Regions from separate parts of the Homo sapiens genome. Here regions 1, 2 and 3 are each linked to region 4. The links come from fine-mapping of genetic effects on gene expression. A gene starts in region 4. Each other region holds a variant in brackets. All regions are shown on one strand. Distances are from middle to middle.

Region 1 (7,751 bases), 540 kb after region 4:
GGGCCACAGCTTTCATCTGAGAGATTAAAGCTTTCTTCTATAGACCTTAAAAATAAATGATTTTTTATTAATTTACAAAAGTAAAAATAAATTCACAATTTAATCTTCTTGCTAATTAAATGTAGGTAAGCTAAGTCTTTTGCTGTTTTATCAAACAAACCTATAATTTCATACCAATTGTATATCTCTTTAAGAAATCTACTGGCTATTCTTTCAGGTTCATGTTCTTGTAAGAAATTTTACTACAGAGTCAGATTGGGAACATTTTTTTGTCCAATTAGAAGTAACTAAAGAAGTAGATAATCCCAATTCATAATCAACCAAAAAGTGGCTAAATTTTAAGATTTATAGATGAGTCTGGTACAATCTTTTCCCTGTTCTAGGCCCTTCTGGTGTCTGTTTTTGATTTCAGGAGTAAAGTCAAAGATGAAGGAATAAAGGAAATAAAAAAGAGGAGAAAACAAGAACTTTTAGTATCTACAGTTGTACTTAATGTAGATTAAAAACTAATCTTTCAAGAATGAATTACCTTGCCAAAATAAAAACATGAAAAACTGAAATATCAAAACATGTAGTATATAAATCAAAGACCTAAACATAAAACTCTTAGAAGAAAACAAAGGGTAAAGGCATCATGCATCATGACACTGATTTGGCAATGGTTTCTTGGATATAACACAAAAGGCACAGTCAACAAAGGAAAAAAAAATAAACTGGACTACATACAAATTTAACCTTTTGTGCATCAAAGGACACTATCAATGGAGTAAAAAGGCATCCCACAGAATGTAAAAAAAATTTACAAATCATATATCTGATAAGGGATCAATATCTAAAATATATACAGAATTTCCAGACATCACCAACAAAGCAAAAAAATGCAGTTATAATATGGGCAAAGGACTTAAATAGACATTTCTCCAAAAAAGATATACAAATAGCCAATAAGCACAAGAAAAGATGATCAAGTCAGATGTGGTGCCTCATGCCTGTAATCCTAGCACTTTGGGAGGCTGAGGCAAGTGGATCACTCGAGCCCAGAAGTTCTACTAACCTGGGCAACATGGCGAAACCCCATCTCTAAAAAAAAAGAAAAAAAAAAAATTAGCCAGGTGTGGTGGCAAGCCTGTAGTTCCAGTTATTTGAGAGGCTGAGGTGGAAGGATCACCTGAGCCCAGGGAGGTTGAGGCTGCAGTGAGCCGGGATTATGCCACTGCACTCCAGCCTGGGCGACTCAAAAGGGAAAGAAAAGAAAAGAATAGAAAAGATGTTCAACTTCACTAATTATTAGATAAATGCAAATAAAATCCACAATGAGGAACCACTTCAGACTCATTAAGATGGCTATTATCAAAAAAACAGAAAATAAGTGCTGGTGAAGATATGGAGAAATTGGAACCATTGTGCATTGCTGGTGGGAATGTAAAATGGTACAGTAACCATGGAAAACAGTGTGCAGCGTGACAGTTCCTCACAAATTTAAAAACAAAATTACCATATGATCCAGCAATTCCACTTCTGGATATATAACCAAAAGTATTGAAAATGGGGACTCGAACAGATACTTGCACACTCATGTTCAGAGCGGCATTATTCACAATAGTTAAGAAGTGGAAGCAACCCAAGTGTCCATCAATAGACAAATGGATAAACAAAATGTGGTATGTATATACAACGGAATGTTATTCAGTCATAAAAAGGAATGAATTTCTGACACATGCTACAACATCGATAAACCTTGAAAACATTATGCTAAATGAAATAAGGCAGACACAAAAGGACAAGCAGTGTATGATTTCATTCATACAAGGTATGAATGAAAATTCATAAAGACAGAAAATAGAATGGTGGTTACAAGAGGAAGAAAAGGGAGAAATGAGGAATTACGTTGAATGGATACAGAGTTTCAGCTGGGAAGAGGAAAAAGTTCTGGAGTTGGATGGTGATGATGGTTGCACAACAATATGAAGGTATTTAAACAAATGTCACTGAACTGTACACCTAAAAATGGTTAAAATTGTAACTTGTTATGTATAACTTACCACAATTTTAAAAATGTAGTAAATTTTAAAAGTTTTCAGTTTCAAACTTAAAATACACAGAATACAAGTCCAGGTTCTAAAAAACCCATATAAAATTGTGTTTAAGGAACTACTCAATCTTGTTCTGTGTTTAAAGTTCCAACTTACCATCTAGGAAATACCCCATTTTCCAAACTTGTTGTTTGGCTGCGTCGCCAACGTCGCTGGTAGCTGCTGGCACAACTTCGGGTAAGTGAGGAGTTTGGGGAAGGAAATGGAGTGATCAGCAAGCTGCTGAGAGATGCTGTTAAGTCAGAAGAACAACAAGTATAAGTCAATAATGACTAAGCATAATGACAAATTTCTTTTTAACAAAATTACAAATAGGTTAAGTTAAACTTTATTTTGCTTCATGAGCCTCAAAAATGTTCATTAAAAGAACACATCCTTCTTGTAGCAAGGTCTCAGAGGAGAAAAATCATATATTAACAATGTATCAGCAAAAAACTCTGAGACAATCCCCTTTTGGCATTCCCCTCTAGGGACTCCAGAAGAAAATTATACTTTGCAACAAGGCATTATCCCTTTGGCCACTGGATTGACTGTCCCCTAACTCAGTTGAATCCTTTTAGTTCTTAAATTAAAGGAAATCTGATGCTATTCAAACTTAATGCAGCAGCTGGATTTTAAGAACAAGCTATTGAAAATAAGTGTCTGAATGGCATTTAAAGAGGTCATTTACAAGTATTCATGGATCACATGTGCACATGTAGTCAAACCTACCACTTTTAATTAAGAATCATGACTATACCTACTAAGCTCCAAAAAAAGAATGCTCCCTGGAGCATCTAAGGTGACAAACACATTCCAGCAGACTCCACTCTTTCACGGCTGCAATCCCCTGATCTTGGGGATGGATTATTCCCTTCCCGAAACACTTCTGTGAAATCTGTAAGATATGTTTATTGCTTGAGGTGTTAAGAGCTACAACTGCTGATTTTTCATTAGGCTAGGAGATTTTCATCAGGCTTTTCCCCACTGGATTTAGAGAGGATAACACTTGCCATTAAGGGCTTGCTTTTGTTTGGCAATATTCCAGACTTCTATCTTTCATGATCATAAGCACATACTGAAAATGTATATTCAAAACAGGGAACCATTATCATCACTATTAAAAAGGTACAGGCCAGATGATAAATTATTTTGGACACCAGCACTAAAAACTGAGACACTTTCATTATGAAGATCTATTCATTTGAATTCTGACAAATTCAATGATAGAGGATAAAGCTGTATGTGCCATGCAAACATGTAGACCATCAATGAACTCATTCTAAATTACTTTAGAATGCAGATTCTAAATGCAGACCACATTTTATCAATTAGTATTATAAACTCTTGTAGTCCAAGATTGGGTATGTACAACTAAATCTGGGTATGACTTCAGTGAAAAATAAAATGCTGTCCTAAGTTTGGAAAAAATACATTTCACTGCATTCTAATATTAAAAATAACCCTATTAGAAAAAAAAGAAAACACACATTAACTTAAATGGCATATATGAATCCAATAACTTGAAGCAGCCTAACAGATCAGTCTAGCCAGATGCTTCAACTTACAAAGAATGTAAGTATAAATAAATTATACTTAAATCTTAAATAAAATAATGAGAATTAAATTCCTGCCAGGGAAGACTAAATATCTAGATTACATCGAAGCAAAGTTTATTAAAAGAAATAAACTCTAGATTCTTTAAAACAAAAATAAGAAACTCAATTAGAAAAGAAAGATGAGATTACTTGAAAAACACAAGCTACTCTTATTAGAGTAGTGGTCGGCAACCCTAGCTATCCATTAGAATCAAGTGTTAGGTTTTGCATTTTGTTTTGTTTCACAAATACAGATGCCTAGAGATACCTTCTCTAGGTTACACGAGAGTCTTTGAAAGTAGAGTTCAGGCACTTGAATTTTTTATAAAACTTCTCTTTGTTATTCTAATACATACCTAGGGATTGCAATATACAGCAAGTTTAGATTTTTCATTTATACTCAAAACTGAATTACAAAACAATTTCGATAGCAGAGCCATATAATGTAACAACACATGCTATCACACTGAATTAAGTTTCTCATATCTAACAGTAATTCAAGCCTAAAATTACTCCTCCTTTTACTTATGCTGCTCTCTGGGCCCCAAC[A/G]AACACTTTTCCTTTTAGCTAAAATGCTTTTCTGAGCTTTTGCCTGGATAACTGCTATTTATTTCTCAAAATACAACTCAATCATCATCCTTCTGTAAAGCATTGTTGGCATCCCTGCCCCTTGCCCAGGCTAAGTGTGGTGCTCTTTCGCTGAAGCTTTTTGCGCAGGCCTATCACTAAATGCATCACACAATGACCTATGACAGATGATTTTCCTAATTTTTCTCCCAGTAGACTCCATACATCTGTGTTCCGTAAGGGCAGACTCTGGGCTTTAATTTTTTTAATGTCCACCATGTTTCAATAAATGTTTGCTAGACCTACAAATTTTGGACAGGTCCATATTTGGAAAAAAAAAAAAAGTATAACATTGATTCAAAATGCCTATGCTTTTCTGGGCAAGAGACAATATGACAATTTAAACTTTAGTTAGCAGCAAGCAAATATAAGCAAACGTGTTTTTTTTTTACTACAGTTTCTAAGCAGTTTTTCTGACCAATGCTTTTCTTCTTATATTCACTAAGCTTCAACCAGTGTACTTTACTCTGGCTTTACTTCATCCTGGCTTTATCCTACTTAGCACACTTAAAAGTAAACATGAAAAATATTAAATTTATAAGACTTTGCTCTGGTCTTTTCACAGTTCTCTTGTAAGGCTAATATCAATATGAACAAATTTGATAATAAAGGGAGGGATAAAAAAGAAAATCAATGCCAACAGTAATCTCATAAAAAACTGAATACAAGAACGTGACATTACCAGACCGTGCTATGCCACTGTCTCTGTCCTCATTGAGCTCTCTTCCAGGCATGTCCATTGGGTTGCTGTGAACTATAAATAAAGATGAAACTGTCAGTTATAAAATATATTGCTATTCAGGTGGATGAACAGCTCCTTTTAAATAGCAAACGAAATCATGCTCATCTCATTGCATTCCCTTATTTTTTTCAATAGCATGGCACCAACCCAACACCAAGAGCTATTACTCAGTTGAACAAGCTTTGAGAGCTCTGTGAAGATTTGATACACAGTATAAGAATCTAAAACATAATATCTAAAGAAGCAAGGAGTGACTAAAAGTCATATTTTGGAAGCATATTCAGTGACATATTTATAATATACTATTAAATGAAAAAAAGCAAGCTACTGAACAGTATGAGTGCTTGCTGGGACCAAGTGGTGGGTATATCATAGTTCACTGTACTGTTTCTGCCTATAACAATGTATGTTTCAAAATTCTCTATAATAAATTGAGATATTTATTTGAATAGTATGATCCCCATTTTCTTTAAAAAACAAAAAAGCAGGTATTTCTGGCTGATAAAATGGCTAATATATATTTTTGCCTTTTAAAAGTGTTTTCCAAGTTTTCTACAAATATATATTTTTTATATCTAATATTTACAGGGAAAGAAAATATTAATCAAAACAAGAAGGGCTAAATTGATACCAATCTGAGAACAATGAAGAGTAAATGTGTTCACATTCCAGTAATTTCCACTAAAAGGTTACAATGTTAGGTAATCCGCTAAAATGTGTGAAAACAAGGAATATGATTAGAATCCTGGATATATACACATGAACATACTCTACAATCATCAACTTGATTATGTAAGCAAATATAGTCATATATGCCTTTTACAGAGCATTATAGTAGTGCTTGTTCATCTAAATCTTAGCTCCAAGAAAAACTGCTCTTATGGAATAGTGTAGATCAGAAATTTTACAATAATAACAAGATAGGATAATTTTCTGCAATTGGTGAACTATGGTACAAAAGCTACTCAGCCATGGAAACAAGACAGTGTCACATTAAAAATTCCAAGTGGTATCATAAGAAATAAAGTTCATATTAAGTTTTGGTTTCAGATTCTGAAGTTAAAATCATTATGCCACAAGAGAAATGACAAACTGAAATTTCATAAAAATGTCAATTCTACTGATAATCCGGTGTCTGGAAACTTTAAGAACATGTTCAGTAGAAAAGGAATTAAGTTTTTATACTTCCTAATGCAATGTTTTCTTAACCACAACCTCACCAACTGCATTCATCTACTCTCTTGTTTCCACAGCTTAACTACAGATTCTAGCCGTTGGGGCACACCAACTAGTCTACCCACACAGCACATCGCAAACCTGCAAAGAAAGAGGCGCTCCTGATCAGGCGGAGCGGACCCTGCTCAGAGAATGCCCGCCTGGGGCTGCAGAACTGTGAAAGACCTACATGGCAAAAACGTAAAATACACATGAAAGAGGACTGTTAGAGAAGCCACAATGCGTCAGGGAAAAAAGGTGAGCTAAGGCAGCACAAGAGCAGACCAACAAATATGGATGGAAACTTTTAAACTAAATAAGAATTCAAGCTGTCTTTCCCATTTTTGAAACAGGATGGTGTTTCTTTAGCCATGATTTATATGAAACAACAACTTCATGTATTTTTACTAATAAATCTATATGTAATAAAAACAAGCTTCTGCTATATAAAGTAAAAATTATTTTAAATGTTCAATCCTTTCTAATGTAAAGCAGTATTTTTAAAGATTTGAAAAAGTACGATAATGTTATCTATCTAATCTGATATTTGCCAAATAAATTCATTTTTTTAAAGTTGTTTGAAGATTATAGTATGTGCCTACAACTGCAGCGAGGAGAAAACCACCTAAGCACTTGGCACACAGCATACAACAGGGTGCAAAACCAGAAGAGATCTTACTGACAAATTAAAAATTGGTTTTTCTAACCCAGTTGTAAGTTACAAAGTAATGGAAGAAACCAAGGTTACTAAACCAGGAGTCAGCCACTGTGGAAGGAGGAACACAAATGAAGCTCATCAGGGACCAGACTCCCAGCTGTTCAAGAGAAGTGGCTGCCACATGCTTCATCAAGAAAAGGTAACTGCAGTCTGAAGACCCAAGAAGGACATTATAGCCTGAAAGCAAGCAGCTGGGTTACCTGTTAGTTATGCTTCATGAAAATAGTCTAAATAGCCATGAAGGACATTTAACTAGGATGGAATACGGGGCTTTCTGTTTTAAAAAGTGACAATTGCATGTTTCTTCTTTCCTTTTTTGAAACAGAGTTTTGCTCTGTCATGTAGGCTGGAATGCAATGGCATAATCATAGCTCACTGCAAGCTCGAACTCCTGAGCTCCAGTGATCTTCCCTCCTCAACCCTCCCCATGAGCCAGGACTACAGGTGCATGCCACCAGGCCCAGCTAATTTTGAGAACTTTTTAGTAGAGACAAAGTCTTGATACATTGCCAAGTTGATCTCAAATTCCTGGGGTCAAGTGATCCTCCTGCTTTGGCCTCCTAAAGTGTTGAAATTACAGGCATGAGCCACTGTATCCAGCCAACTGTAGTTTTCAAATTGCTAACAGATATTATTTTTCTGTAGCAAGAACTTCTATAATTACAGCACATGTACAGCAATCCTTCCATGTCTCAATGGTCAGCTTTTTAATTCGTCCTAGCTTTCTTTCCCTCGTTACTTTAAAAATTATCTACTTCTTCAAACTCCTTCCCTACCTC
Region 2 (7,751 bases), 290 kb before region 4:
AACAACACATGGACCAGACCCCTTTGTGAGAAATCCAGAAACTAGGTCAGAGGCTCCTGCACCCTGGGGAAGCATGAAACCAGTCACATTGACCAACAGGAAAATTTGTGGCACTCACTCAACAGAGCCCATATCCCCAGCATAGCCCAGAGTGATCCTGAGGTAATTCTCAACTCCCAGCTTCTTCCTGAGGGAGGGAAAGAGAAGACTGGAACATAGGCCTAATATTCAGACATTTTGTGGGGCTACCCAAGGGACTGGTTTCTGTCTTACATGAATATGAGCATGGACAAGAAACAGCACCAAGTTGGGACCCACTAAGAACAAAGGTGATGGTAAGAATTGTAACAAACTCACCTGCCATCCTCCCCTACCCCCAGTTCAGCACAGCACAAGTGGGAGAAAACTCCTAACTCCTGACTTCCTGCTGGGGAGGAAAAAGAGTTGCTGTCTCTATCCGACATTTCCAGCTTTTCAGAGGGCTGCCTGCGGGTCTGGCTTCTGTTTCATCCGTTTTGGGTACTTGTGGGTTGCAGCATATTTTAGATGCCTGGGAATCACTAAGAACAAAAAACAGCCGAGTAGCTTACTGCTGCTCCAAGGACCTATGGTGCAGAGGACAGAGGCTGATGCAACTTGGCAGCTTCTCCCCTCAGGGGGAAAGGAGGGAGTGGAACATGTGTCCAATGTTCCAGCTTCTCCAGCATCTGCCTGAGTAATGAATTTCTGCCTAACCTGACTAAGAATGCTATTGGGACCCTGACAGGGTGCCACTAAGAATAAAACCTGGGTGGCCAATGGCAGCTCCAGAGAACCTGTAGTACTCCAGACAAACACCAGAGGGAGGACGAGATAATGAGCTTCAGAAAAAAGAAAACTGGTCATTAAGAATTTACATGCATAAGTCTGGAGAAGACACATTACCAAAAAATCTTTGAGAAGTCACCAGAATCACTAGCCAGTCGGATTTGTGAAGGTCCCCGTATGAAGCCAGTAAATACTGGGGGAGGTAGTTCTTTTTTCAAATGTGTGCATCCAAACACAAAGTAACAAGGCATCTAAAGACACAGGGAAACACGGCCTAACCAAAGGAATAAAATAAATCTCTAGAAACCGACTTTAATGAAACCCAGGTATATGAATTATCAAGGAATTCAAAATGATCTTCATAAGGATGCCCCATGAGCTCAGGAAAACAGCAAAGAGATAGAAAACACTACAAAGTAACAAACATAAAAAATTTGGAGCTGAAGAACAAAATAACTGACTTTAAAAATTCACTAGAGTGATTTGAAGCAGAAGAAAGCAGGAGAAAGAATCAGTGAACTCAAAGACAAGTCATTTAAAATTATCCTATCAGAGGAACACAAAGAAAAATGAATGAAGAAGAGGGAAGAAAGCCAAGGACTATGAGTCACTAGCAAGCACACCAATATATACATTATAGGGTCTCAGAAGGAAAAGAGAGAAAGAAAGAAGTAGAAGAAATAATGGCCCAAAACTTCCCAAATCTAAGAAAGAAAATGGACATATAGATTCACAAAGGCCAACAGAGTCCATCATGGATGAACCCAAAGAAGATCACACTAAGACACATTATAATCAAACTGTCAAAAGTCAAAGACAAAGAGAAAATTTTGAAGGCAGCAAGAGATGCTTGAACTCCCATGTTCATTGTGGCATTATGCACAGTAAGCAAGAGATGGAAACAATCTAATTGTCCACTGACAATTGATGAATGGATAAAGAAAAGATGGTATAAATATATAATGGAATAGTATTTAGCCTTTTAGAAAGAAGAAAATACTGTCATATGGTACAGCATGGATAAACCTTGAGGATGTTATGCTAAGTGAAATAAGCCAGTCACAGAAACTGGGACAAGACAGGGATGCCCTCTCTCACCACTCCTATTCAACATAGTGTTGGAAGTTCTGGCCAGGGCAATTAGGCAGGAGAAGGAAATAAAGGGTATTCAATTAGGAAAAGAGGAAGTCAAATTGTCCCTGTTTGCAGACGACATGATTGTATATCTAGAAAACCCCATTGTCTCAGCCCAAAATCTCCTTAAGCTGATAAGCAACTTCAGCAAAGTCTCAGGATACAAAATCAATGTACAAAAATCACAAGCATTCTTGTACACCAATAACAGACAAACAGAGAGCCAAATCATGAGTGAACTCCCATTCACAATTGCTTCAAAGAGAATAAAATACCTAGGAATCCAACTTACAAGGGATGTGAAGGACCTCTTCAAGGAGAACTACAAACCACTGCTCAATGAAATAAAAGAGGATACAAACAAATGGAAGAATGTTCCATGCTCATGGGTAGGAAGAATCAATATCGTGAAAATGGCCATACTGCCCAAGGTAATTTATAGATTCAATGCCATCCCCATCAAGCTACCAATGACTTTCTTCACAGAATTGGAAAAAACTACTTTCAAGTTCATATGGAACCAAAAAAGAGCCCGCATCGCCAAGTCAATCCTAAGCCAAAAGAACAAAGCCGGAGGCATCACGCTACCTGACTTCAAACTATACTACAAGGCTACAGTAACCAAAACAGCATGGTACTGGTACCAAAACAGAGATACAGATCAATGGAACAGAACAGAGCCCTCAGAAATAACACTGCATATCTACAACTATCTGATCTTTGATAAACCTGAGAAAAACAAGCTATGGGGAAAGGATTCCCTATTTAATAAACGGTGCTGGGAAAACTGGCTAGCCATATGTAGAAAGCTGAAACTGGATCCCTTCCTTACACCTTATACAAAAATTAATTCAAGATGGATTAAAGACTTACATGTTAGACCTAAAACCATAAAAACCCTAGAAGAAAACCTAGGCATTACCATTCAGGACATAGGCATGGGCAAGGACTTCATGTCTAAAACACCAAAAGCAATGGCAACAAAAGCCAAAATTGACAAATGGGATCTAATTAAACTAAAGAGCTTCTGCACAGCAAAAGAAACTACCACCAGCGTGAACAGGCAACCTACAAAATGGGAGAAAATTTT[C/T]GCAACCTACTCATCTGACAAAGGGCTAATATCCAGAATCTACAATGAACTCAAACAAATTTATGAGAAAAAAACAAACAACCCCATCAAAAAGTGGGCAAAGGATATGAACAGACACTTCTCAAAAGAAGACATTTATGCAGCCAAAAAACACATGAAAAAATGCTCAGCATCACTGGCCATCAGAGAAATGCAAATCAAAACCACAATGAGATACCATCTCACACCAGTTAGAATGGCAATCATGAAAAAGTCAGGAAACAACAGGTGCTGGAGAGGATGTGGAGAAATAGGAACACTTTTACACTGTTGGCGGGACTGTAAACTAGTTCAACCATTGTGGAAGTCAGTGTGGTGATTCCTCAGGGATCTAGAACTAGAAATACCATTTGACCCAGTCATCCCATGACTGGGTATATACCCAAAGGACTATAAATCATGCTGCTATAAAGACACATGCACACGTATGTTTATGTGGCACTATTCACAATAGCAAAGACTTGGAACCAACCCAAATGTCCAACAATGATAGACTGGATTAAGAAAATGTGGCACATATACACCATGGAATACTATGCAGCCATAAAAAATGATGAGTTCATGTCCTTTGTAGGGACATGGATGAAATTGGAAATCATCATTATCAGTAAACTATCTCAAGGACAAAAAACCAAACACCACATGTTCTCACTCATAGATAGGAATTGAACAATGAGAACACATGGACACAGGAAGGGCAACATCACACTCTGGGGACTGTTGTGGGGTGGGGGGAGGGGGGAAGGATAGCATTAGGAGATATACCTAATGCTAAATGACGAGTTTATGGGTGCAGGACACCAGCATGGCACATGTATACATATGTAACTAACCTGCACATCGTGCACATGTACCCTAAAACTTAAAGTATAATAATAATAAAAAAAAGAAAGAAAATGAGGTTCTTCTGCCTTCCTGTGACCAACTTTCTCTGTTGCCAGTTAATGCTGGAGCATGAATTATTAATCTATTCACCAATTTTCTCTATTATGAGCTGAGTATGATTAAATACACTCACTTTTTGATGCTATTTTGAAAAAAATCTAACAGGTGAAATAGATTTGAGAGTGCAGAACAGAGTTGCCAGAGAAAGCTGCAAAGGAACTCTTAAGTTGGCGCTGATGCTGAGTGAAGTTTGAGTGGGAGGAGAAGACAGAGAACAGAGAAGGGAATGAAGGGTGGAATTAGCTTGGTCTGGGGTGGAGGCAGCAGGGGGACAAAGCATATGCCTTTCTTCTTGAGCACTGAAGTTCTTGGGAATTAGGCTGCAGCAAGCATTGCCAGTCCCATCTGGCCCACAGCTGCTTCTGGTAATCATCCAGGTTTATCTCCTGCCAGACCAACAGAATTCCTGATGAGTAGTTGAGCTCAATAGCTCAGTTCCACTTCAAGCTCTGAATCTGGGGTATGCCAATGAATAGCATCTGAACTCCATGAGAACCATGGAACTCACTTAGGGCCCAAGCACCCTCTATAACATCTGCATCATATCTCCTAGGAAAGTTTTAGAATAAATTAATATATTTGTATTCCAAAAACCAGAATAGATTTCTTAGAAGTATCATGCCAGGTATGTTCCAATTATTTCTCATCCCATGTACCAAGCATCCCTATGTTTCTTTGGCAGTTCCAACACTCACCACCCAGTGGTGGACCACGAACTGGGACCCAAAAATCATTCCCAGCCAGCTTCTAGACTCAGTTTTGTGAAACAAGTTGATCCCTGGTTTTTCAACCACAAAACATATGTTAAAACTTTATTTTATTCCCTGAAACATATTACCAAGTGAAATGAAGCAATGCATATAGTATTTCTAAGGGATAGGTCATTTAAAAAACATTGCAAATAGTTTACAAAAAAAGTAGGGTGTAAAAAACTTACACCCTACTTACTAAGTAATAAGAGTTACCACCCACACCACTTCCAATATTACTAAACTTACATGAATACAAACATCTTCCTAGAGTAGATGCACTATTACTCACTGAAGCTGATTTATAATAAAATAAAACATAAGGGAAAGAACGCTGAAAGAGTCTTGAGTACTATTTTTGGTCCTGCTACAAACTCCTTATACTAATTACCTTGAACATGTTACCCTAACTTCTCTGAACCCTATTTCCCTCATCTATAAGTGTTAAAAGGAAACTAAAAACACATATGGGTCATTTCCAGGTCTGAAATGTCTAGATTATTGGATCTAGATTGCTTAATTCCCTGGAAACACGTTGTGTGGATCAACTGGGAACACAAAATCATTTCAGGGACTATAGGAAATCACTATATAAGTATCATTACAAGGTTAAATACACCTATTCTATTAATCTGTGGCTTGTTTTTCACTAAATCTCCATTTTAATTTGACATTAGTTCTAATCCCAACCTGCTAAACTATAATGAGAAACCCACGTCCTTGGTAGCTAATCTCCAAATATGGCCCCTAAATGAGCCCTATCTTGCACTGTACACATCTTTATGTAGTCCCCTCCCCTCTCTCCCTGTTTAACCAACAGAATGCATCTGAAATGATGTTCAGGGACTTCCAGGTCCAGGATATAAGAATCTTTGCACCTTACTCCTTGGAACACTTGCTCTGGGGGAAGCTAGCTGTCATGTAAGAAGTCTGACTATCCTCAGATCACCATGCTATAAGGAAGCACAAGCTAGCTATGTAAAGAGGACACATGGAAAGAGAAAGATGCCTGACAAGCCCCCATCAGTTCCAGTCATTCCAAATGAGGCTCCACACATGTAAATAAAGAAGCTTCCTTGCCTATCAGCCCACTCGAGCCTTCAGATGACTGACTCCAGGCCCAATAGCCATCGGACTATAACCACAAGAAGACTCAGACGAGAATCACTCAACTGAGCCCAAGCAACCAAGATAACTATGAGATAATAATAAATGTATTTTAACATAACTATAATAATAAGTGGATGTTTTGAAGTAATTTTTCTTTATGGAGAATAGATCATTCAAACAATATCCCAAGACCCCAAAATTCTACTTCCTTTTAAATATTCTTAGAAAAACCTGTGACTACATAAAAGGAAGGTTGTAAAGTGATCTTTATTGCAACATTTTTTGCAATGGCAAAAAAACTGGGGAGAAATGTTCATCAGTAAGAGAATAAATAAATCATTATGGTATATCTTTATTGGGAATACTAATAAACAGCAGTTAGGAATAGTGAGGTGCAAACATGGACAAATATCCAAAGTTACATCATTCAGTAAAAAAAAAATACAAATTGATATTTATTATTTAAATATTTTTGTTTAAAAATGTATTTTTATGTTCCTGTGTCTGGACCATAAGAAAGAGTGAGAGAGAAGGTATAGTACCTTGTGTGGTAATAAATGCTAAGATGAAAAATCAATCATGGAAGGGAACAGGATTTTCTGGGGGTATACACTTTTTTAATAGGCAGATGATATGGTTTGGCTGTGTCTCCACAAAAATTTCATCTTGAATTCCCACATGTTGTGGGAAAGACCCAGTGGGAGGTAATTGAATCATGGGAGCAGGTCTTTCCCATGCTGTTCTCATTATAGTGAACAAGTATCACAAGATCTGATGGTTTTATAAGGCAGAGTTTTCCTGCACAAGCTCTCTTTTTACCTGCCGCCATCCACATAAGATGTGACTTGTTCCTCCTTGCCTTCCACCATGATTGTGAGGCCTCCCCAGCCACGTGGAACTGTAAGTCCAGTAAACCTCCTTCTTTTGTAAAATTGCCCAGTCTCAGGTATTTCTTTATCAGCAGTGTGAAAATGGAATAATACAGTAAATTGGTACCAGTAGAATGGGATGCTGCTGAAAAGGTACCCAAAAATGTGGAAGCAAATTTGGAACTGGGTAACAGGCAGAGGCTGGAACAGTTTGGAGGACTCAGAAGAAGACAGGAAAATGTGGGAAAGTTTGGAACTCCCTATCGACTTGTTGAATGGCTTTGACCAAAATGCTGATAATGATATGAACAATGAAATCCAGGCTGAAGTGGTCTCAGATGGAGATGAGAAACTTGTTAGGAACTGGAGCAAAGTTGACTCTTGTTATGTTTTAGCAAAAAGACTGGCAGCATTTTGCCCCTGCCCTAGAGATTTGTGGAATTTTGAACTTGAGAGAGATGATTTAGGCTATCTGGTGAAAGAAATTTCTAAGCAGCAAAGCATTCAAGAGGTGACTTGGGTGCTGTTAAAGGCATTCAGTTTAATAAGGGAAGCAGAATCTAAAAGTTTGGAAAATTTGCAGCCTGACAATGAGATAGAAAAGAAAATCCCATTTTCTGAGGAGAAATTCAAGGCGGCTATAGAAATTTGCATAAGTAACAAGAAGCCCAATGTTAATCCCCAAGACAATGAGGAAAATGTCTCCAGGACATGTCAGAGGTCTTAATGGCAGCCTCACATGCCTGGAGGCCTAGGAGGAAAAAGTGGTTTCGTGGGCCGGTCCCAGGGTCTCCGTGCTGTGTGCAACCAAGGGACTTGGTGCCCTGAGTCCCAGCCGCTCCAGCTGTGGCTGAAAGGGGCCAACACAGAACTCAGGTCATGGCTTCAGAGGGTGCAAGCCACAAGCCTTGGCATCTTCCATGTGGTGCTGAGCCTGCAGGTGCACAGAAGTCAAGAATTGAGGTTTGGGAACCTCCGCCTAGATTTCAGATGTATGGAAATGCCTGG
Region 3 (7,751 bases), 81 kb before region 4:
ATGCTAAAACAAGAGAGAAAATAAAATCATATAAAATGTTCAATTAAAACCAGAGAAGGCAGAAAAAGAGTGAAAGGGGGAAAAAAAGAAACAAAGAACAAGGAAATAGAGAACAGTTAAAATGTGGTCAGAGATTAATCCAACTATATCAAAAATCACTTCACATTTGAGTGGTCTAAATATACTACTTGAAAGAGAGACTGGCAAAGTGGATGGGAAAAGACCCAACTACAGATTGTCTACAGGAGCAGACCTGTAATAAACAATTAAAGTAAATCACTTCTCCATCAGTTGATTTCCTACCTGGTTTAAATAATATCTGTTGGTATTCACCTGAAAAAAAGGTCTAACATTAAAAATATATAAAATTCCAAAATTAATGCATAAAAATAATATCGTTTTTGTTTTTGGAACAAAAAGAGAAACATACTAAATATAAACATATTAAATTTATGATAAATCCAATGCAATCAAAAATAAGAAAAAGATGAATAGTTGCTATGTGGAGTTGCGATAATTCAGACCAGTTGGCAAGATGGGTTTGAATATCCCTATGCTATTTTTCAAAGATTACAACTCCTTTATAAGTCTTTATAATGTAAAAGAGTTTGTAATTCTCTATTTAAATAATCCAACAAAAGGTATTCACTAAAATGTCACATGAAAGGATGATTAAGGCAAATTTTTTCCTGTTAACGCCACTCCAAAAAAGGACTGATATTATAAGAGGGGAAAATTGATTAAAAAAAATGTTTATTTGCAAAAGTCTGTACTGTTGTCCAAGAGCGTGACTTTTAATTCTCTGCCACTGACTTATCTGGTGATTTACTGATTTGATACGTACATTAGCAGAAACTGAATTTTCATATTCTAGCACCCAAACCACATCTACTTTTCCCAAGCCAAAAGGACAGCATCACAGATTTCGTAAATCAAACAGATGGAATGCTACCCAGGAGAACATAGCCACATGAGCACATAAGCACAAGGAGTTTGGCAATAACATATGACAAAGCAAAGTTAAAAAAAAAAAAAGAGAGAGAAAGAGAGAGAAATCATCCAGCACACATTCACTATTTGTCTAAAACAAGTTTTCTATATCCTTTTAGTACAGAATCAATACAGAGTCATATGAAATCTCTAGCAGCAAATATCATGCTGGGTTTCAAGCAAATACTGCATCATGAGATCTGAACTGATAATGTCAGACTCATCCTTCCTGGGGAAAAAAAAAATGAAAAGTTCCCAAAAGTTGTATCCATCAGCTGAGTTAAGAATTGGCCTTTGCCTTCTTTCTTCTTCATTCCTCCGCCTCAATTCATTCCTTTTAGGAATATGTGGGTCATAAAATTTGTGTTAATAACTTCAAGCTGAAAGAAACTGATCTGTGATTCAGACCTATATTATAATTACGGTAGTTTAAGGCATAAATAAATCCCAATCTACATGATGAAAGTGCATATATTCATTCTTTCTAGAGCTAAGGAATAGGAATGCATGTGGTGGCTGTCCCTACCCTTTCAGATTTTACTGTGTAAAATTTTACTGCTTTAATTCATCCAGATTTTTATGATCACTCATTTCAGGCTTTGGCATACCATGAAAGTTACACATAATTCCCTGAACAGTAGTGTAAGTCCAGCCTGATTCCCACACATTAGTGGACTAGGATACTTCTGTGGGAGGCTGCTGATCTAAGTGTTAGAGAAAAACATGTAAGTAATTAATTTCAATAAAGTGTTAAAAGTTCAAGGACATTATAATCAAAACCAACAGACTTTCCTATCCCAGCCCACTAAGGAACTTTGGTATGTCTCTTCCCCCACCACCACTCAACCCTATTGTGCAGAAATAAGTCATCAGTGAGCACAGGAAACTAAGGAATCTGACAGGGATTCAAAATCCATGGAAGCAGGGGGGCTGTGAGAGAACTGGAGGGTGAGAAGAATGGGAAAATAACTAGCTTTAAAAGTGGTCCTGTGAATTTTGAATTGGATCTCCATTAATTATCTTTGAGAGGCATAAGTAAAGGTTTGAATTAATTTTAATTACATACTTTTGACTGATGAACTCTTTCTTTCTTCCCTTTTTTTTTTTCTTTTAGATAGGATCTGACTCTGTCACCCAAGCTGGAGTGCAGTGGGGCAATTATGGCTCACAGTAGCCTCAATCTCCCAGGCTCAAGTGACCCTTCCACCACAGCCTGCCAAGTAGCTGGGACCACAGGCGTGTGTCACCACACCTAGCTAATTTTTTTTATTTTTTGTAGAGATGGGGGTCCCACCAAGTTGCCGAGGCTGATCTCAAACTCCTGGGTTCAAGTGATCCTCCCACCTCAGCCTCCCAAAGTGCTGAAATTACAGGCATGAGCCACCATGCCCAGCCTGATCAACTCTTTCTTTGAATGTGGCAGCATGCTGAGACTGGGCAACATGGAGCCTTTGGAATTTACTCACATTACAAGAGAAATGTATTTGGACATTGTCTAGGACATGGTAAAGAGAAAGGGTGGAGAGGAAAAGTCAAGAGGTATAGGCCAGGGTTTAACCATGAGCAGTAGTAGCTCTCAGTCACCAGGTTTCTTTTTCTCACTTTCTCTCTACAAAACCTCATATTTTAGTGGATATGTTCTGGGGACACTATCAGGCTAGGAAGAAGCAAAGCCACCTAGAAGGAAGGATAGTGGCCCTGTTAAGTGTAGGAGGGACTAACTGTGCATATTTGATTGTCCTAATATATCTCAACCAAAGCATGTGTAAGCCTGGCACAATACAGTCAGATTTTGTTCTTCTTATGAAAAAATAACCATTCTCTGTAAACTACCAGAAACTTTACCTGGCCTCATAGGAGAGATAAGAAGAAGCTAAAGTTCTGTGCCTAGAGGAAGCAAAAACTACTAAAATAGGATCCTGGGCATCAGTCTCAGCTGCATTTAATGGTACCAGGAAACTGAAATAATCCTCTTTCTTCTTTCTTTGACAAGTTTTAGCAGCCCTACACCTTTCTGAAATTTGCCCTTCCCACTTTTTTAGAAATGTATTTATCATGTGCAATATAATGTTTTAGAGTATATATACATTGTGGAATAGTTAAATCTAACTAATTAACAACTGCATTACTTCACATAGTTATCATTTTCATGATGAGAATGCTTAACATCCAATATTTTTGCATTTTTCGAGAATGCAATATATGTTCATTAACTATAGTCACTATGCTGTACAACAGATCTCTTGAATGTATTCCTTCTATCTAATTATATTAATATATCCTTTAACATCTCCCCATCCTCCACTCCACTTAAGCACGACAGCCTTGGGTAACCACCATTCTGCTCTCTAGTACTATGAGTCCAACTTTTTTAGATTCTACATATGAGTGAGATCATGTGGTATTTGTCTTTCTATGTCTGGCTTATTTCACTTCGTGTAATGTTCTGTGGGTTCATACATGTTGTCACAAATGACAGAATTTTCTTCTTTTTATAGTGGAATAGTATTTCAGAGTATGTATATACCACATTTTCTTTCTCCATTTATCTGTTGATGAACAAAAGTTGATTCTCTACCTTGGCTATTGTGAATAGTGCGGCCATAAACATGGAAGTGTTGATACTCTTCAACGTACTGACTTTATTGCCTTAGTCATTTCTTTGAATAAGCTTTCTACCCCTTGCTCTTGCTCAACTCCTTCTTGAGTACCAATA[A/G]TTCTTAGATTTGCTCTTTTGAGGTGAATTTCTATATCTCACAGGCAATCTTCATTCCTTTTCATTCTATTTTCTCCTCTGACTGCATTTTCAAATAGTTCACTTATTCTTTCTTCTATTTGATCCATTCCGTTAGTTTTTTAAATTATTTCAACCCCTTTGTTAAATTTCTCCAATAAAATTCTGAATTGTTTTTCTGTGTTATCCTGGAGATCACTGAGTTTCCTTAAAACTATTTGAATGCTTAGTCATAGAGTTCAAATATTGCCATCTCTTTAGATTCAGTCGTGGGTACCTTGCTTTGTCTGTTTGAGGAAGTCATGGTTCCTTATTTGCTGCTGTTTCTTGTGGATATACATCTATGTATTTGCATTGAATGATTAGTTATTTATTCCAGTCTTCTCTATATGGCTCATGTTGGGGTATATTGGGGATTTTTTGTTTTGTTTGTTTGTTTTAACATATTTGCTTAGAGTCTTTATATTTTACCTCGTGATTTGTTTTATTTTATTATTTATTTATTTATTTATTTATTTCTGCTAGGTCGCTGCTTCTTTTTCAGCACTAGATAGCACATTAAACCCAAGTTTGCCTCAGTTCTAGTATACAATCAGAATGCTGCCCATCCAAAATGGGGGAGATTGCAAATTGGTTATCCCAGTAGTGTAGGAAGGCTGGCTAAGGGTCTCTGCCCAGGCAACCTGTGAAATGAACCTCCTACAACATGTTGCTGCTAACAGTCACTCTGATTTGTCATCTCCTTTGGCCAAGTTACAGAGCAGAGTTTCTACAGCTGGGGTTGGTAGCCCCACTCCCTACTTTGTCTCTGGCTGTCCTCAGGGATATTTCTCCCTTCAGGCACTCCCACTGATTCCCATGGATTGAGACAGGAGAAGATCTCCTGCCAAGGAACCCAGGTGGTGAGGGAGCTCATTGTTCATCTCAATCTTACTTTGTCCAACGTAGAAACCACGAGTCAGGAAAAATTTTTCCGAGTGCTGGTGCCAGGTAGGTTGGGGAGACAGGCACTGCAGATACGGAACTCCAATTCTCTTACCATCTGCTCAGTTTTTTTACCTCTCGGTGGCCCCAGGAACTGTTTCCTCATATTAAATTCTGGGCTATTGCTGGTGATACACTCAGCTATGTATATTTGTTTTGGTTTTCTCAGGGGCAGTGAATCCAGCTTGCTTCTATGCCATCATTATAGAATCAGGAGCTCTTTATTTCATGTCCTTTAGATAGATAGACATTGCTCCCCAGTAGCAAGATTTCTGGATCTTATCATAATTTTATTTTTAATATTTTGAGGAATCACCATATTGTTTTCCATAGCTGCTGCACCTTTTTACGTTCCTACCAACAGTGTGGAGGGGTTCCATTTTCTCCACATCCTTGCCAAAACTTGTTATCTTTTGTCTTTTTTATCATAGCCATTCTAACAGGAATTAGGTGATATCTCATTGTGGCTTCAACTTGCATTTCCCTGATGATTAGTTATGTTGAGCATTTTTTCATGTACCTGTTGGCCATTTGTGTATCTTCTTTTGAGAAATGTCTTTTCAGGTCTTTTGCCCATTTTTAAATCAACTTACCTGTTTTCTTGCTATAGAGTTTGAGATTTTTATATATTTTGAATATTAACTCCTTGGCAGATTTATCATTTACAAATATTTTCTCCCATTCTCCCTGCTGATTCTTTACTGTGCAGAAGCTTTTTAGCTTGACGTAATCCCATTTGTCTGTTTTTGCTTTGGTTGCTTATGTTTATGCAGTAATACCCGAAAAATCATTACCCAGATCAATGTCATGGAGTTTTTCCCCTATGTTTTCTTCTAGTATCATTGTTTCAGGTCTTAGCTTTTAACCCTTTAATTCATTTTGAGTTTATTTTTTATATAGTGTGAGATACTGGTCCAATATCATTCTTCTACATGTGGACATGTAGTTTTCCCAACACCATTTAATGAAGAGACTGTCCTTTCACATCATGTGTTTTTCCCCATTGTGTGTTCTTGACACCTTTGTAACTCAGGGAAGTGGGCATGCTGGAGTGGATATAATGAAGGTAATTGGAAGATCCACCAGATGATTATGTTAAATATCTTTATTGCTAGCACATAAGAATATGATTAATTTTTGACTGTGGTAAAATATGCATGACATAAATTTTAACATTTTAATCCTTTGTAAGTGTAAAGTTCAGTGGCAGTAAGTAAATTCACATAGTTGTGCCACCATCATTACCCATCTGCAGAACTTTTTTATCTTCCCAATCTGAAACTGTGTACCTATTAAAAAAATAACTCACTAGTCTCTTTCCCATCCTCATTCTCTGAGAACCCTCCTTCTACCTCTGTCTCTATGAATTGGACTGCTCTAATTTGATTACCTCATGAGAGTAGAATGATATAATATTTGTCCTTTGTGACTAGATTATTTCAATCTTCATAATATCTTCAAGATTCATCCACGTTGTAGCATGTGTCAGAATTTCTGTCCTTTTTAAGGCTGAATAATATTTCATTGTATGTAATATCACATTTTGTTGCCCATTTATCTTGGGGTTTCTTTGTTTTGTTCTTTTTTTGACATATTTGCTTAGAGAGTCTTTATACTGATGGACAGTCAGATTGCTTTTGCCTTTTGGCTTTTGTGAATAATGCTGCTATGAACACGAGTATACAAATATCTGTTTGAGACCCTGCTTTAAATTCTTTTTGGTATATACTCAGAAATGAAATTGCTGTATCATATGGTAATTCCATTGTTTAATTTTTCTTTAAATCTTTAATCATGATAAAATGTAATGTAACGGGGGTGGAGCCAAGATGGCCGAATAGGAACAACTCCAGTCTACAGCTCCCAGCGTGAGTGACACAGAAGACGGGTGATTTCTGCATTTCCAACTGAGGAACCAGGTTGATCTCACTGGGGAGTGTTGGACAGTGGGTGCAGGACAGTGGGTGCAGCACACCGTGTGTGAGCCAAAGCAGGGTGAGCCATCGCCTCACCCGGGAAGTGCTAGGGGTCAGGGAATTCCCTTTCCTAGTCAAAGAAAGGGATGACAGACAGCACCTGGAAAATCAGGTCACTCCCACCCTAATACTGCGCTTTACCAACAGGCTTCACAAACGGCACACCAGGAGATTATATCCTGCACATGGCTCAGAGGGTCCTACGCCCACGGAGCCTCACTCATTGCTAGCACAGCAGTCTGAGATCAAACTGCAAGGCAGCAGCCAGGCTGCGGGAGGGGCGCCCGCCATTGCCAAGGCTTGAGTATGTAAACAAAGCAGCCTGGAAGCTCAAACTAGGTGGAGCCCACCACAGCTCAAGGAGGCCTGCCTGCCTCTGTAGGCTCCACCTCTGGGGGCAGGGCACAGACAAACAAAAGGCAGCAGTAACCTCTGCAGACTTAAATGTCCCTGTCTGACAGGTCTGAAGAGAGTAGTGGTTCTCCCAGCATGCAGCTGGAGATCTGAGAGCGGGCAGACTGCCTCCTCAAGTGGGTCCCTGAACCCCGAGTAGCCTAACTGGTAGGCACCCCCCAAGTAGGGGCAGAATGACACCTCACACAGCCAGGTACTCCTCTGAGACAAAATTTCCAGAGGAATGATCAGGCAGCATCATTTGCGGTTCACCAATATCTGCTGTTCTGCAGCCACCGCTGCTGATACCCAGGCAAACAGAGTCTGGAGTGTACCTCCAGCAAACTCCAACAGACCTGCAACTGAGGGTCCTGTTAGAAGGAAAACTAACAAACAGAAAGGACATGCACACCAAAAACCCATCTGTACGTCACCATCACCAAAGACCAAAGGTAGATAAAACCACAAAGATGGGGAAAAAACAGAGCAGAAAAACTGGAAACTCTAAAAATCAGAGTGCTTCTCCTCCTCCAAAGGAATGCAGCTCCTCACCAGCAATGGAACAAAGTTGGATGGAAAATGACTTTGACAAGTTGAGAGAAGACGGCTTCAGAAGATCAAACTACTCCGAGCTAAAGAAGGAAGTTCGAACCAATGGCAAAGAAGTTAAAAAC
Region 4 (7,751 bases):
AAAGAGATGACCTTAAAACACTAATTTAGAATGTTAACTGAGTAAAAATTAACATTTTATTGTCCTTACAGAAAAGAGCTGCATTTGAGTAAGAAGCTCTGACCTTAAAATGCCATGACTGTCTAATTATACTAAATGTTAAAAATTTGTATTCTGGGGCTGGGCGTGGTGGCTGACACCTGTAATCCCAGCACTTTGGAAGGCTGAGGCGGGTGGATCACGTGAGGTTGGGAGTTCGAGACTAACCTGACCAACATGGAGAAACCCCATCTCTACTAAAAATACAAATAAGCCAGGCGTGATGGCATGCCTGTAATCCCAGCTACTCAGGAGGGCAGGGGAATCGCTTGTACCCAGGAGGCAGAGGTTGCGGTGAGCCGAGATCGTGCCATTGCACTCCAGCCTGGGCAACAAGAACGAAACTCCGTCTCAAAAAAAAAAAAAAAAGAAAAAAATGTATTCTGAGGGTTTAATGTTATTGCATATAAGACGGTATTTTACCATTAAGTACTCGCTCTAATCTTTGAACTCTGTGATTTGTACAAATATATTGAATTAAAAATTAATGCCTTGAAGTTTCTAAGTTTCAGAAATAATGTCTCACTTTAAAAAGGTATCCCCAAGTAAATACAACTGACCCTTGCACAACATGGGTTTGACCCGTGCAGGTCTACTCATATGCAAATTTTCTTCTGCCTCTGCCACCCCTGAGACAGCTACAGCTAGACCAACCCCTCGTCTTCCTCAGCCTACTCAACATGAAGATGACAGGGATGAAGACCTTTATGATTCACTCGACTTAATAAATAGTAAATATATTTTCTCTTCCTTATGATTTTCTTAATAACCTTTTCTCTAGCTTACTTTAAGAATATAATAGGCCAGGAACGGTGGCTCACGCGTGTAATCCCAGCACTTTGGGAGGCCGAGGCGGGCGGATCACGAGGTCAGGAAATCGAAACTATCCTGACTAACATGGTGAAAGCCGTCTCTACTAAAAATACAAAAAATTAGCCAGCCTTGGTGGCGGGCGCCTGTTGTCCCACTACTCGGGAGGCTGAGGCAGGAGAATGGTGTGAACCAGGGAGGTGGAGCTTGCAGTGAGCCGAGTGCCACTGCACTGCAGCCTGGGCGACAGAGCAAGACTCTGTCTCAAAAAAAAAAAAAAAAGGTAATAGCAAGTGTTGATAAGGATACGGAGAAGCTGGAACGCTCATTCATTGCTGGTGGGATACAAAATGATGCAGTAACTTTGGAAAACAGCTGGGCAGTTGAAGTCCTAATGGTTTTTCTGGTTTTTCCTTAGTAATGACCTTAGGAAGATGAAAATGTGACAGCACTTTAAGGACAAAATTAATCTCACAATTTAAAAAGCAAGAAAATAAATCATGTTAGAAATGTACTTACACTTTCATCATCATCTTCTGCCACAGAAATCTGGGATATATGTTTCTTGGGTATCACCAGAAAATGTGTTGGTGCTTGAGGGGAAATGTCATGGAAAGCAAGGCACTAGGGAAAAGAGAAATAAATAAATAAATCAAACTTTTAGTATATTGGTAGGATAAAACTTATTTCAACAAGTATTTACTGAGCAGTAACTACATGGAGGGCACTAGATGCTAAGAAAACAGAAGTGTACACATTACGAATGGTGCCGTGGTCCTTTCCATGGAAGTCTTTTTTTTTTTGAGATGGAATCTCACTCTGTCACCCAGGCTGTAGTGCAATGGCATGATCTCAGCTCACTGCAACCTCCGCCTCCTGGGTTCAAGTGATTCTCTTGCCTCGGCCTCCCAAGTAGCTGGGATTACAGGCACGTGCCATCATGCCCAGCTAATTTTTGTGTTTTTGTAGAGACGGGGTTTCACCATGTTGTCCAGGCTGGTCTCGAACTCCTGACCTCAGGTGATCCACCTGCCTCGGCCTCCCAGAGTGCTGGGATTACAGGCGTGAGCTACTGCACCCGGACTCCATGGAAGTCTTATGGGAAGACCAACTTTAAAAGTATAATCACCAAAGGTCATACATGTTACAAAGGAAAAATATGAATGATCATTACAGGAAAAGCCTGATTTAGATTAAGTGTTTAAGAACAACTCTGAGGCAGTGACATTTAAACTGGGAGCCAATGAATGCATAAAAATTGGCCATGCTAATCCTTGCCTGCCTCTCCAGATCTCCTGCAGGTCTTCACATGGAACTGGCCTTCTGAGCTCTCTGCCCTCAGAGCTTTTTCAATGATCCTCTCCCCCTCCAAACCCCAACTTCCGTCTAATTTAAACTGCTAGTCATTCCGCCATTCCATTCCCAGCACATACATGATTTCTGGGAGAAAAAAGAAAAAACAGAAAAAAACCTCTGATTGCCCTCCCCGTCCCATTACTCCCAGGTCAGAGTCCTAGTTGTGCAATTTCCTGGTTTTTTTTTTTTCTTTATGATAGCAATCAGTTTTGTAACTACATATTTGTCTGATACTTGATTAATATCTATTCTCACTTTACTCAACTATTTAAGAAATATACCTATCCTTTTGTGTAAAGCTGAAGAGTATATATATGATATTCTTTAGCATTTAGACTAATTATTTAAAACAGTGTCTGTAAATACACATATGACATGAATATTTTCGAATCTCTTGCTCACTGCTGAAGTGAAAGCTGTTTTAATAAAACCCATCCACACTTATTTGTCTCAGGAGTAATTCTACTGGGTACTCCCTACAAAATGCTGATTCATTTAGAATGCTTCCTGCCGTTCTACAGTTGGACTTCGGTGGTTCAAATGTAAATTTTTCAAGAACCATTTCTCAAAGGCAACTGCGAACTTTAAAAAGAAATATTTTTTCTAAAACCAAAGAATTTCCCCTGAGTAGAGACAAAGTATTTTTTTTTTTAATTTACCTAGAGGAACCTAATTAAATTTTTGATAACGTTTTGAATCTAACCGACATTAGTAGAATAAATGTTTTTCTTAGATTTTATATTTCCTAAATTTAACAAAACTGTTTACAAAATTTGTTCTATCTAAATCAGCCAATCTGCCCAGCTTTATCTGAGATCCAATCCCAAAAATACAACTGGCCACTAAATAATTTACACAAGATATCTCAAAGTCACATCAACTGGGATTTCACCTACAAGAAGTCAACAAAAACTACAGTCTTAGTCTCTTGGCATAAAATTACTTCCTGTTGAATACAAAAAGAATCATTCAGCTGTTTGTAAGTCCAAAATGTTCAGCGGGAGAGGTCAACGGAAAGCAAATCCCAGACGCGGGCCCACTTCTTATCTCAGGAGATCGCCTCGCTAGCCCAGGGTAGGCCTTGGGGTGGAGATAGGGATAGGGGTAGGGGTGAGGGTGGCAAGCCGCACCCCGCGGAGGAAGCCGGCAGGCCCAGACGGCCCGCGCACCTCCCAGCGCCCCTGGGGCCCTCGAGCACAATGCCTTGCTGAGCAGCGCCCAGGAACGCCGGGCCCTGGCAGGCCGGCTGTGCGCGGGAGATCGCGGAGATTGGGCCTGAGTCAGGGCGCGATCGGGTTTCTCTCTGTCAGGCAGAGCGCTGGCGAGATTTCGAGATTCCTGATACAGGCAAGGTCCGAGGCAGCCGGGGAACCGGCGGGCTTCCACGCGGGGGCCCCAGTGCGCCCCGACACGCGCCCAGGCCCCGCGGTGCGGCACTCAGGGCGCCCGGCGGCCTGGCCCGCGCCCGGGGCAGATAACGAGTAACCGGAGCGCCGGCACGCGCCGGCAGGCCGCCTCGGAGTGCCCGGGCCCTGTCCGCTGGCTGGGGGCCCGCTGGACCAGGGCAGCCAGGTCCCCTCCCGTCGCCGCTACACTCGCGACCCCTCCTCTCCCTCCGCGAGAAACCCGAGGATCCGCGGACGATACCCACCTCAGCAGGCGAGAGAGGTGGTGCCCAGTACCTACCCGGTCATCCTCAAAAATGATTTTGGCTGGTATTTCCTTGCGGATGATCTTCCCAAAGATCGTGTCGCCACCAGGCCGAGCGACCTGAGCCTTGGCAATCTCATCTGCCATCTCGGCCTCTCTCCCGCGCGGCGGCCAGAGGAGAGGCTCGGAAGAAGGGAGGAACCCGCAGAGCGTGCGGCGCGAGAGGGCGCAGCCAAGCCTGCGCAGGTGCCCCGGCTCTGGCGCCCCACCTAATCTTGCGCGTGCGCACTGGCGACCTGGGCTGCGAGTGCGGCCAGCGCGCTAGAGCGCCTCAGGGACCTCCGGCTTGGGGAAGTTCCTGGTCTTGAGCTCCAAGGAGATTCCTAAGTCGTTTTTCTATCCTCCTTTCTTGTCTCCTGGGGAATGCAGTTACTGGTATAAACCCTTCGTCTGCCTATGGATGCTTGTAGGGAAAGTTGGATACTGTAACTGACAAGATTTGATAATTTAAGTGGTGCTGGCTGCAACTTAGCACTTAGATTATTTAAGGTCTTGCTGCTGCAGCAGATTTTAAGTCCTCTCTTCAACAGAGTTTTTTTCTCTCTCTACCAGTGGTTCTCAATCTTGACTACACATTAAGATCACTTGGGGAGCTTTTAAAAATCCCCGTGAACCTGGCTGCAGCCCAGATCCATTAAATAAGAATCTTTGGAGATGAGCCCCAGGCATCAGTAGTTTGTAAACCTCCCTAGACTGCTCTGCAAAGAATTTTTCCCAGCAGCAATCAACATAATGTATTAATAAAATGACCCACTTTAAAAAAAAAAACCTTCCTTAATCCCACATCCCCCTCCGTATCTTTGCTCGTTTTATAAAGAAGTTTTCTACATACCATGTCTGCTTTCTTATCTTTCATTTTTGAGTCCATTTCCCTCTTGTCAAGGTCACTAAGGACATCCATTTATAAAATCCTATAGACAATTACAGTTATCATACCAGACCTCTAAGTGTACGTATTAAGAAAAAGTATACCTCCTCAATGCCTTTTTTTTTTTTAGATAGATTCTTGCTCTGTCGCCCAGGCTCGACTGCAGTGGCACAATCTCGGCTCATTGCAACCTCTGCCTCCCGAGTTCGAGTGATTCTCATGCCTCAGCCTCCCAAGTAGCTAGGACTACAGGCGCGCACCACCACACCTGGCTAATTTTTGTATTTTTAGTAGAGACAGGGTTTCCCCATGCTGGCCAGGCTGTTCTCAAACTTCTGACCTCAGGTGTTCCACCCGCCTCAGCCTCCCAAAGTGCTGGGATTACAGATGTGAGCTCAGCTGCCTTTTATGATTACATTACTACCCTTGTCTTGGCAAAATTATTGAATGTGGTTGCCTTTAATCTCAAAAGTGTCCATTTGGTACTTTTGCTATCAAAGACATTACTGGGACAATTCGTAAAATCTAAATAATGCCTATAAATTAGATAATAGTTTTGAAGTCATGTTAATTTCCTTTCATAACCACAGAAAAATTGTCAAAATCAGTTGATCTGGGGTGGGGCCCTACAAGTTAGGTTTCTAACTTTCCAGGTGATACAGTTGCTGCTGGCCCGGGAACCATACTTTAAGAACTACTGATACAAGGGAATGTCTTTGTAGGAAAAACCCACTGAAGTATTTAAGGCTATGGGTATCATGTCCGCAACTTACTTTCAAATAGTTCAGAGAAAAAGTGTCTGTCTATAGGTAATTAGAGAAATAGAAAAGGATAAAGCAATTACAATAAAATGTTAACATTTGGAGAATCTGACTGAAAGGCATATGCAAATTCTATGTATTATTCTTGCAACTTTTATGTGTCTGAAATTGTCAAAATAAAAAAATGTGTGCTGGTTTGGATAATAAATAACATGGTCAGCTTTCATTCCATCTGAAGGCTTTACCATCTATAGAGTAGTGACTCTCAAGTATTTGTCTCTTGACCTACCTCTTCCCTTAATTCCAGACTGGTCTGTGACATACATTACAGCCTATTGACCACCTCCACTTAGATGGCTACCAGGCACTGCAATTTTATTTTGACTCCCTCCACAACAAACAAACCAAAACCTCCTTTTGCAGGATTCTGTATCTGCTGTACCACCATTCACCCAGTCACTCCAGCCAAAAAGCCTTGAAATCATCCTTAAACCTTCTCTCTGTACTTTCAACACACATCACCAAGGATCTAATCACTTATCTCCTCTATCTCCACTACTCTAATCCAAGCTACTAACATCTCTTTCCTGGAGTACTTTGAAAGGCTCCTAGTTGGATAACCTATCTGCTTCCATTGTAGTTAATTTGCCACACAGCACCCAAAATGATCTTTATAAAATATAAATCATAATGTCACTCTCCTGCTGGTAATATGCTAGTGTATAACATCACAGAATAAAATCCAACATCCTTACCTTGGCTTATAGGGCCCTGTGTGATCAGGCCCATTGCTGCTGCTTCTACCTCATTTCTTTCCATTTCAACCTTATTGACTGGCATCACGCAAACTCAGTGTGCTAGGCAGAAGATGCCCATGTCCTAATCCCTGGAGCCTGTGAATATGTTACTTTACATGGTAAGTGGGATTTTGTAGATGTGATTAAGTTAAGGATCTTGGAATAGGGAGGTTCCTGCATTATCTAGGTGGGCCCAAAGTAATCACAACAGCCCTTGTAAGTGAAAGAGAGACACAGAAGAGTGAGAGTAAGAGAAGGAGATGTGACCACAGAGGCAGAGGTGAGAGTCTGAGATTTGAAAATGCTCGGCCGGGTGTGGTGACTCACGACTGTAATCCCAGCACTTTGGGAGGCCGAGGTGGGCTATCATGAGGTCAGGCGTTTGAGACCAGCCTGGCCAACATGGTGAAACCCTGTCTCTACTAAAAATACCAAAAATAGTTGGGCATGGTGGCAGGAGCCTGTAATCCCAGCTACTCGGGAGGCTGAGGCAGGAGAATCGTTTGAACCTGTGAGGCGGAGGTTGCAGTGAGCCGAGATCATGCCATTGCAGCCTTGGCAACAGGGTAAGACTCTGTCTCGAAAAAAAAAAAAAAGCTCCATTATTGGCTTTGAAAATGGAAGGAGTTGGGCCAGGTGCGGTGGCTCACGCCTGTAATCCCAGCACTTTGGGAGGCCAAGGCAGGCGGATCACGAGGTCAGGAGATTGAGACCATCCTGGCTAACATGGTCAAACCCCGTCTTTACTAAAAATATAAAAAATTCGCTGGGCGTGGTGGCAGGCGCCTGTAGTCCCAGATAATCAGGAGGCCGAGGCAGGAGAACGGCGTGAACACGGGAGGCGGAGCTTGCAGTGAGCTGAGATCAGGGAGGCGGAGCTTGCAGTGAGCTGAGATCATGCCACTGCACTCCAGCCTGGGCGACAGTAGGAGACTCCTTCTCAAAAAAAAAAAAAAAAAAAAAAAAAAAAGGAAAAGAAAATGGAAGGAGCCAAAAACAGGTAGCATTTTGTAAGTCAGAAGTCCAAATTGAGTTTCACTGAGCTAAAATCAAGTGTTGGCAAGGGTGCATTCCTTCTGGATGCTCTAGGGAAGAAATCATTTCCTCACCGTTTCCAATTTCTAGAGGAGGCTTGCTTGGTTTGTGGCCCCTTCCTCCATCTTCCTCCATCTTCAAAGCCAGCAGCAGAACATCTTCAAACTTCTCCCTGACTCTGCTTCCTTCTTTCACTTATAAGGATCCTTGTGATTACACTGAGTCCAGCACACAATCCAGGATAATCTTCCCATCTCAAAATACTTAATTTAATGACATCTTCAAAGCCTCTTGTCATATATAACATAGTCAGAGGTTCCGGAATCTCAACAGTTA

Which allele goes with the higher level. Positions count from the first base shown, and alleles are read on the strand shown. Sizes are in standard deviations (SD) of each study's normalised expression. Not every link is listed here.
In carriers of allele C in region 2, the expression in tibial nerve of the gene that starts at base 4,092 in region 4 tends to be higher than with T alone (small effect, 0.33 SD a copy in GTEx).

Evidence for each region. PIP is the estimated chance that this variant, and not a neighbour inherited with it, causes the effect. A credible set is the group of variants that fine-mapping cannot tell apart.
Region 1: its variant is the best candidate, but not a certain one, in a credible set for the expression of HINT1 in whole blood (TOPMed, PIP 0.50).
Region 2: its variant is the best candidate, but not a certain one, in a credible set for the expression of HINT1 in tibial nerve (GTEx, PIP 0.75).
Region 3: its variant is the best candidate, but not a certain one, in a credible set for the expression of HINT1 in whole blood (INTERVAL, PIP 0.72).

What each region holds. Positions count from the first base shown.
Region 1 is chr5:131,704,222-131,711,972 of GRCh38, forward strand. It overlaps FNIP1 (folliculin interacting protein 1), which reads right to left. Exons shown (of 18, transcript NM_133372.3): 7 at 6,357-6,440; 8 at 4,980-5,051; 9 at 2,190-2,325; 10 at 1-45. Among named protein-coding and RNA genes, the nearest start is that of RAPGEF6, 73 kb to the left of the region's middle. The variant A/G (reference allele first, on the strand shown) is at 4,220.
Region 2 is chr5:130,870,852-130,878,602 of GRCh38, forward strand. LOC107986449 (a long non-coding RNA gene) reads right to left here and starts at 576. Exons shown (of 4, transcript XR_001742881.1): 1 at 358-576. The variant C/T (reference allele first, on the strand shown) is at 3,032.
Region 3 is chr5:131,080,633-131,088,383 of GRCh38, forward strand. No RefSeq gene overlaps it. Among named protein-coding and RNA genes, the nearest start is that of HINT1, 81 kb to the right of the region's middle. The variant A/G (reference allele first, on the strand shown) is at 3,707.
Region 4 is chr5:131,161,165-131,168,915 of GRCh38, forward strand. HINT1 (histidine triad nucleotide binding protein 1) reads right to left here and starts at 4,092. Exons shown (of 3, transcript NM_005340.7): 1 at 3,931-4,092; 2 at 1,408-1,512. The coding sequence starts at 4,041. RefSeq lists enhancers at 2,821-3,481, 3,482-4,141, 4,412-4,461 and silencers at 3,272-3,911, 4,122-4,201, 4,212-4,261.